2 linked regions of the Homo sapiens genome follow. The protein of the gene in region 1 interacts with the protein of each later gene in a pairwise test. Each region holds a gene or a part of one and is shown on either strand. Other genes may lie near its edges.

Evidence for each region.
Region 2: the proteins of TNIP3 (region 1) and MAGEA2 interact in binary tests that used the Homo sapiens proteins (3 or more experiments, as listed by UniProt).

The regions. Positions count from the first base shown.
Region 1 is NC_000004.12:121,143,227-121,147,890, reverse strand, and holds part of TNIP3 (TNFAIP3-interacting protein 3), read left to right. Parts: intron 1-716; coding exon 717-842; intron 843-4,664. UniProt on the Homo sapiens protein: Binds to zinc finger protein TNFAIP3 and inhibits NF-kappa-B activation induced by tumor necrosis factor, Toll-like receptor 4 (TLR4), interleukin-1 and 12-O-tetradecanoylphorbol-13-acetate.
Region 2 is NC_000023.11:152,751,043-152,755,283, reverse strand, and holds the start of MAGEA2 (melanoma-associated antigen 2), read left to right. Parts: upstream 1-1,441; 5' UTR 1,442-1,496; exon of another isoform or gene 1,497-1,742; intron 1,743-1,892; 5' UTR 1,893-1,971; intron 1,972-2,770; 5' UTR 2,771-2,890; intron 2,891-3,461; exon of another isoform or gene 3,462-3,559; intron 3,560-3,709; 5' UTR 3,710-3,775; intron 3,776-3,855; 5' UTR 3,856-3,920; coding exon 3,921-4,241. UniProt on the Homo sapiens protein: Reduces p53/TP53 transactivation function through recruitment of HDAC3 to p53/TP53 transcription sites. Also represses p73/TP73 activity. Proposed to enhance ubiquitin ligase activity of RING-type zinc finger-containing E3 ubiquitin-protein ligases.

The DNA.
Region 1 (4,664 bases):
CAATAAAATTGATAAACCTTTAGTTAAAATTTGTTGGGCTGTTAGTGATGAAAGTGTAATGTGCATTAGTTTTAATAGATAAAAATCTAGCTATAGGTTCCAATATAAGTAGTAATTTAAATCAGAATCTTAGAGGAATGTTTTTACTTCATTCCTTACCTTTCATTTGTTTTCATAGCTTTATATACCAGTCTGCTAACCTTCAGTCAACAGTAAGTCAGTTGAAAACAGTAACAATAATTAAACCTGTTTTTGTTTTTAGTTTAGTCACTTTTCTCAAATATTTGGAGTGCCTCTCAAGAGGTGTTCCACTCAAATATTACTATTATTTATGAGATACATCCAAAATAACTTATAAAAGGAAAATTTGTGAATACCTTTTAACAATCATGCTTTGCTTTTCCACATATGTAAGGGTTTCATTTCTTTTTTGCATTCAACTTATAATTTATGTCTGGAAACTTGGGCATGTCAGTATTTAGTGGCATCACTTAACATCTATTGTCAGTAAACTGTCTTTTAGAAGTTCAAGCAGTATTCATACATCAAAGCCCTTGTGTTAGGGATGGATGACTTGCTCCAAAACAGTGACACTGAACACTAGTTGGGAGGGTTCTTTACAATAATGGAGTAGGCAGCAGTCATTTAAAATAAAGTCATTTAAATGGCTTAAGTGAAAAGGAAGCTTACAGTAACAGCAAGCTAATATTTCTTAGGTGCAAATATACGAAGAAGACTTCAAAAAGGAACGATCGGATCGAGAGAGACTTAATCAAGAGAAAGAGGAGCTACAGCAAATTAATGAAACTTCCCAATCCCAGTTGAACAGGCTGAATTCCCAGGTACAAGTCAAAACAAAATAATCTTTGCCAGCATGTATGTATATTTTTTTCATTTAAAAAAATTCAAGACGTTTGGACTTCTGTTAATTGACATTGAATTTTTTTTTAAAGGTCAGCACCTGGGATGAAGTCATTCTTAAACAATCTTGTAAAGAGATGAAAATGACTGGAAATTTCTTTTAACTTAAGTATATTAAGGAATTGCCCAAGAAATTGCATTCCAAAGTTTTTTTTAATAAAATACAGTCCTTTTGATCTTTTTCTCATAATATTTATCTTGGTAGAATGAGAGTTGAACTACCTAGTACTCAAATAAAGTGAAGTGGTTTTTAAAATTCTTGTCATTTTCTTTGAAGGGCTATGTTGGAATGCTCCTGTCTGCCAAAAACATACGTATTTCTAAATGCCATTTATATGTGAGACTGAGGATTTTGTTCAGTGGTTCCCAGATGTAATGTAACTGGAGTACTTTGAAGGAAGCCAGATAATGGTCACCAGTTTATTAAAATAGAATATATTAAATGTAAGCATACTAAAATTAAGTGTAATTGAACATATTAAAGTAGACTCAGGAAGTTGCCACGATGGGTAAATAGTGATGTTAATGAAGGAAAATGTAGCTAACATAATTTTGCCTTAAAAAATAAAACAAACTGCACCATTTTTATTTGTAAAATATTGCAATACATTTAAATAAATAGAACATTGTTATGAGAATGCTGTGGCAGCACTTAGCTTCAAGATTCTTCGTCATAAAAAAATTTAAAACAGTCATCATTTTCTTCCAAATACAAAGTGGATTGTGAATTAAATTTAATTTTATCTCTGATTTTTTTAAGATTAACTTGAAATTCTTAATTTTACATGGAAAAAATTGTTTTGCAGAACCATTTTCTCTGTAAGAAATTAGAAAAAATAAAATAGTAGTAAAAAATCAAATAATTTTATGAAAGTAATTCAGGCAACCTAATAAATAATTCATACAATAATAGGTAAGACAATGTTCTGATTACTCTTGGTAAAAAAAAAGAGTATATATTGTATATTCTCTCTCTCTCTTTTTTTTTTTATGAGATGGTGTTTTGCTCTTGTTGCCCAGGCTGGAGTGCAATGGCATGATCTCGGCTCACCGCAACCTCCACCTCCCAGGTTCAAGCTAGTCTCCTGCCTCAGCCTCCCAAGTAGCTAATTTTTTTGTATTTTTATTCTTTTAATGTGTTTCTTACATGCCCAACTACTCTAATTTCTTTTAAGTTGTCTCTGCACAAACTGTTTTACTTGCTGCCAGTAAAACAGTTTTAGAACAAAAAATATTTGTTTTTTAAAGCAATTTTAAAATTTGCTGCCAGTAAAACAGCAAGTAAAACAACTTTAATTTTAAAACAATTTTTAATAATTTATTTTTATATGATAAATTATATATCAATATATAATTATATTTAATTAAATAATTTTATTTATTCTACTATATTAAGATTGGTGATAGACTGGCAATGTCCTTGCCATTACAGAACTTTTAGTCTTGTCAGGAATGTATATCTATCTACTTAACGTTGTATACTATAATCCACAAGTCCTTAACTGTGTCACCTGTAAAGTTGATTGGTATCAACAAAATAAATGTATTTTCTAAATGCAGTATGGTATAATTCTGCCTTGAACCTAAAGGACAATCTTAATGATATCTAAAGTGATAGATTAAAGCTATGAAATTTTTTCTTTAAAATAATGAAAGCTCAATCATTTTTTTAAAGTCTCATTTACTCAATAGGAGAATGATAGAATTCACAGAGATGTAATAGATGGTTTGATGATCTGTGTTAAATGTGTTAACAGCAGATTAAATGCTATGATATTTTAAAAAGAACTGACATTACCTTAGTTGAATAACATATTATTTGTTGTCCAAGTGGACTTTTAGAGGAATATTTAGGTCAAATCATTCTGGCATTCTGAGTTGCTTTCTTACCAGAATGTATTCATTCTATCACTGAGGATGCGTTAAGTCAGTGAAAATAAGTAATGTGGTAAAGTGAAAGATGCTTAGGGTACTTAGAAATATGAGAATTTAGGGGGAAAAGACTTGGTGTTCCTGCCTGCTCTAATATTCCATTGGTGGTAACCTTGAACAAGTTATTTAACTTTTCTATGCTTCCTTTTCTTCATCTGTACAATGACAAAGTTGAACTAGATGATCTCTAAAATGCTTCTTATTACTCTAAAATCTCTCTCTAAAAAATAAGTTCCTTAACCTCTTTTAGTATACCTGCCTGTAAAATATAGATAATGAAACCTACCTTGTGACTTCCTAAGTTGTTCTCAATATTAAGTGAAAAAAGCAAAAACAGGCCGGGTGCGGTGACTCATGCCTGTAATCCCAGCACTTTGGGAGGCCAAGGCGGGCAGATCACCTGAGATCAGGAGTTTGAGACCAGCCTGGCCAAAATGGCGAAACCCTGTCTCTACTAAAAGCACAAAAATTAGCTGGGCATGGTGGCACGCGCCTGTAATCACAGCTATTTTGGAGGCTGAGGCAGGAGAATCACTTGAACCCAGGAGGCAGAGGTTGCAGTGAGCCGAGATTGGGCCACTGCATTCCAGTCTGGGCAACAGAGTGGGATTCTGTCTCAAAAAGAAAAGAAAAAAACAAAAAAACGCTTTAGAAAACATTTAGCTCAAGTCAAGTCATGGCTCAGAGGTATTTTATAAATTATTTTAGTCTATTAGAAGAGGGGGCATGTTTAATAGTTTCATTTAGTTTATAATTAGCATGGTACTTTCAGTTCTTTGTAATCTAATTTTGATGCTTTCTTTTTGCAAGGCATTCTGCTATATGCTGTGAGAAAACGAAAACTGGTTCTTGCTAGTAAATAACTCACAATATAGTAAAAGAGACATGTACAGTCTATCCTCATCATCACAAATTCTGCATATGTGAATTTCCCTACTGACTAAAATGCATTTGTCATCCCCAAATCAATACTTGTGGTGCTTTGTGATACATCCTTACATATGAGCAGAGCAGCAAAGTTGTTTCCTGACATATACACATTCCTAGTGTTCTTTTTGTGATCTATTTAGTGCCATGTTTCCTGCATTTTTGTGCTATTTGTTGGTGATTTCATGGTTTAGAATGGCCCACACGTATATGCTGTCATGCTCTCTAGTATTCCTAAGCATGAAGGATGTGATGTGCCTTATAGAGAAAAAGTGTGTTAGAGAAGCTTCATTAAGACATGTTATAGTACTCTTGACCATGACTTCAGAGTTAATCAACAATACATATTAAATAAGTTGTCTTTAATCAGAAACACACATGAAACAAAGTTATGTATTGATCCATTGACACAAATGTTGTGACAAGAGGCTAGCAGAAACTTAACCCAACATTTCTCCTAGGAGCAGTGGTTCAATATTCACTAATTCAGTGTCCGTGGTGACTTTATGGAATATGACCACCACAAGCAGCAAGAATTGCCTGTAAATAGTACACATTGGTCTAAAAAATCACACAGTAAATATACAACACTACATAAGAGGACAGAATAATTCTGATAAGTGGGACTTGGAAAGGTATCATTCAGAAGGGGATATTTGACCATCCCTTATGGGAATGTGGGACATGGAGTGTAGGAATGACAATGATGTGAATGAACAGTCAAGGAAAAGCCAGCTTTCTCTAAATGTGTCTTAAGTTAAGGGAACCCAGGGTAGGTGATTCATCTAGATGAGGCTGGGCCTTAAGTAGTGAGAAGCTGTGGGATATAGCAGTGTGACTTTGAACAAGTTACTCAGAATCTTATGTCTTAGTGTTCTCATCTA
Region 2 (4,241 bases), on another chromosome or scaffold:
CATTCACGGGGAACACAACAGTGTAAAAATGTAAACTCAGCTTAAATTATTTACAATTTAGTGCCTTACCTGTAGCCGCCGACATTACAAGCAAATTTGGGCTGCTGTGCTCTGCTTCCCAAATCAACCCTGTAAATTTATAGAATGGAAACAGAAAGTAAAACACCAGTATCAGCAAGAAAATCTACACAACAAAACAGGGAAAGCCCAGAGTGAGACTGGAGACTGTGTTGAGCTGGTACTTGTGTGTGACACTTGCAGTGTCTGTTGGAGGGGGTTAGCGGCAGAGATGTTGGGGAGGTTTGTAGCCTGCCTAGACGGCAGATGAAAGAATGGGTAGAATAAAAGTTTTGAATTTTCCACTTCACTTCATTGCACAATCTGAGGCAGCCCCTGAAAACACGATGCCAAGAGCCCTAGGTAATAGCAGTGTCCACCAGGAAAATTGGGTTTGTTAAGGCAGCATGGCTCCAGAGTTCTGCTAATAACAACCTGAAACCAACAGAGTGGGAGAGGAATTATGTTTTTTAAAAAAATTCTTTCAACAGAACACAAAGACTGGAATGGAAGTAGACTAGGATATCAGAGTGAATCATGCATACTAAGGGTAGGTGTTAGTTCATAGAAATAAATATATATATTGCTACCTACATATATACTTAGAAGATATGTAAACCGTATTTCTTCAATTCAGAGAATAAATCATTTAGGACCAAAGGTTTGCCAAGTGTAGCTCTGGCTGGGGAGGAGCCCCCGTGGGAAGGTGTGCGTCTTCTCCCAGAGGTCACTATCATCGCGGGAGCTCCTGCCCTGCAGGGAGCACCTGGCCTGGCACCCGCAGCCATTCTCTACAAGGGGTGCAGATGCGCAGATGCGCAGATGCTCAGAGGTGACAGAAACAGAGCATCTCCCACCCATTCCTTCATCAAACAGCCAGGAGTGAGGAAGAGGACCCTCCTGAGTGAGGACTGAGGATCCACCCTCACCCACATAGTGGGACCACAGAATCCAGCTCAGCCCCTCTTGTCAGCCCTGGTACACACTGGCAATGATCTCACCCCGAGCACACCCCTCCCCCCAATGCCACTTCGGGCCGACTCAGAGTCAGAGACTTGGTCTGAGGGGAGCAAACACAATCGGCAGAGGATGGCGGTCCAGGCTCAGTCTGGCATCCAAGTCAGGACCTTGAGGGATGACCAAAGGCCCCTCCCACCCCCAACTCCCCCGACCCCACCAGGATCTACAGCCTCAGGATCCCCGTCCCAATCCCTACCCCTACACCAACACCATCTTCATGCTTACCCCCACCCCCCCATCCAGATCCCCATCCGGGCAGAATCCGGTTCCACCCTTGCCGTGAACCCAGGGAAGTCACGGGCCCGGATGTGACGCCACTGACTTGCGCATTGGAGGTCAGAGGACAGCGAGATTCTCGCCCTGAGCAACGGCCTGACGTCGGCGGAGGGAAGCAGGCGCAGGCTCCGTGAGGAGGCAAGGTAAGACGCCGAGGGAGGACTGAGGCGGGCCTCACCCCAGACAGAGGGCCCCCAATAATCCAGCGCTGCCTCTGCTGCCGGGCCTGGACCACCCTGCAGGGGAAGACTTCTCAGGCTGAGTCGCCACCACCTCACCCCGCCACCCCCCGCCGCTTTAACCGCAGGGAACTCTGGCGTAAGAGCTTTGTGTGACCAGGGCAGGGCTGGTTAGAAGTGCTCAGGGCCCAGACTCAGCCAGGAATCAAGGTCAGGACCCCAAGAGGGGACTGAGGGCAACCCACCCCCTACCCTCACTACCAATCCCATCCCCCAACACCAACCCCACCCCCATCCCTCAAACACCAACCCCACCCCCAAACCCCATTCCCATCTCCTCCCCCACCACCATCCTGGCAGAATCCGGGCTTTGCCCCTGCAATCAACCCACGGAAGCTCCGGGAATGGCGGCCAAGCACGCGGATCCTGACGTTCACATGTACGGCTAAGGGAGGGAAGGGGTTGGGTCTCGTGAGTATGGCCTTTGGGATGCAGAGGAAGGGCCCAGGCCCTCCTGGAAGACAGTGGAGTCCTTAGGGGACCCAGCATGCCAGGACAGGGGGCCCACTGTACCCCTGTCTCAAACTGAGCCACCTTTTCATTCAGCCGCGGGAATCCTAGGGATGCAGACCCACTTCAGCAGGGGGTTGGGGCCCAGCCCTGCGAGGAGTCAAGGGGAGGAAGAAGAGGGAGGACTGAGGGGACCTTGGAGTCCAGATCAGTGGCAACCTTGGGCTGGGGGATCCTGGGCACAGTGGCCGAATGTGCCCCGTGCTCATTGCACCTTCAGGGTGACAGAGAGTTGAGGGCTGTGGTCTGAGGGCTGGGACTTCAGGTCAGCAGAGGGAGGAATCCCAGGATCTGCCGGACCCAAGGTGTGCCCCCTTCATGAGGACTGGGGATACCCCCGGCCCAGAAAGAAGGGATGCCACAGAGTCTGGCCGTCCCTTGTTCTTAGCTCTGGGGGAACCTGATCAGGGATGGCCCTAAGTGACAATCTCATTTGTACCACAGGCAGGAGGTTGGGGAACCCTCAGGGAGATAAGGTGTTGGTGTAAAGAGGAGCTGTCTGCTCATTTCAGGGGGTTGGGGGTTGAGAAAGGGCAGTCCCTGGCAGGAGTAAAGATGAGTAACCCACAGGAGGCCATCATAACGTTCACCCTAGAACCAAAGGGGTCAGCCCTGGACAACGCACGTGGGGGTAACAGGATGTGGCCCCTCCTCACTTCTGTTTCCAGATCTCAGGGAGTTGATGACCTTGTTTTCAGAAGGTGACTCAGGTCAACACAGGGGCCCCCATCTGGTCGACAGATGCAGTGGTTCTAGGATCTGCCAAGCATCCAGGTGGAGAGCCTGAGGTAGGATTGAGGGTACTCCTGGGCCAGAATGCAGACAGGGGGCCCCATAGAAATCTGCCCTGCCCCTGCGGTTACTTCAGAGACCCTGGGCAGGGCTGTCAGCTGAAGTCCCTCCATTATCCTGGGATCTTTGATGTCAGGGAAGGGGAGGCCTTGGTCTGAAGGGGCTGGAGTCAGGTCAGTAGAGGGAGGGTCTCAGGCCCTGCCAGGAGTGGACGTGAGGACCAAGCGGACTCGTCACCCAGGACACCTGGACTCCAATGAATTTGGACATCTCTCGTTGTCCTTCGCGGGAGGACCTGGTCACGTATGGCCAGATGTGGGTCCCCTCATCTCCTTCTGTACCATATCAGGGATGTGAGTTCTTGACATGAGAGATTCTCAAGCCAGCAAAAGGGTGGGATTAGGCCCTACAAGGAGAAAGGTGAGGGCCCTGAGTGAGCACAGAGGGGACCCTCCACCCAAGTAGAGTGGGGACCTCACGGAGTCTGGCCAACCCTGCTGAGACTTCTGGGAATCCGTGGCTGTGCTTGCAGTCTGCACACTGAAGGCCCGTGCATTCCTCTCCCAGGAATCAGGAGCTCCAGGAACCAGGCAGTGAGGCCTTGGTCTGAGTCAGTGTCCTCAGGTCACAGAGCAGAGGGGACGCAGACAGTGCCAACACTGAAGGTTTGCCTGGAATGCACACCAAGGGCCCCACCCGCCCAGAACAAATGGGACTCCAGAGGGCCTGGCCTCACCCTCCCTATTCTCAGTCCTGCAGCCTGAGCATGTGCTGGCCGGCTGTACCCTGAGGTGCCCTCCCACTTCCTCCTTCAGGTTCTGAGGGGGACAGGCTGACAAGTAGGACCCGAGGCACTGGAGGAGCATTGAAGGAGAAGATCTGTAAGTAAGCCTTTGTCAGAGCCTCCAAGGTTCAGTTCAGTTCTCACCTAAGGCCTCACACACGCTCCTTCTCTCCCCAGGCCTGTGGGTCTTCATTGCCCAGCTCCTGCCCGCACTCCTGCCTGCTGCCCTGACCAGAGTCATCATGCCTCTTGAGCAGAGGAGTCAGCACTGCAAGCCTGAAGAAGGCCTTGAGGCCCGAGGAGAGGCCCTGGGCCTGGTGGGTGCGCAGGCTCCTGCTACTGAGGAGCAGCAGACCGCTTCTTCCTCTTCTACTCTAGTGGAAGTTACCCTGGGGGAGGTGCCTGCTGCCGACTCACCGAGTCCTCCCCACAGTCCTCAGGGAGCCTCCAGCTTCTCGACTACCATCAACTACACTCTTTGGAGACAATCCGATGAGGGCTCCAGCAACCAAGAAGAGGAGGGGCCAAGAATGTTTCCCGACCTGGAGTCCGAGTTCCAAGCA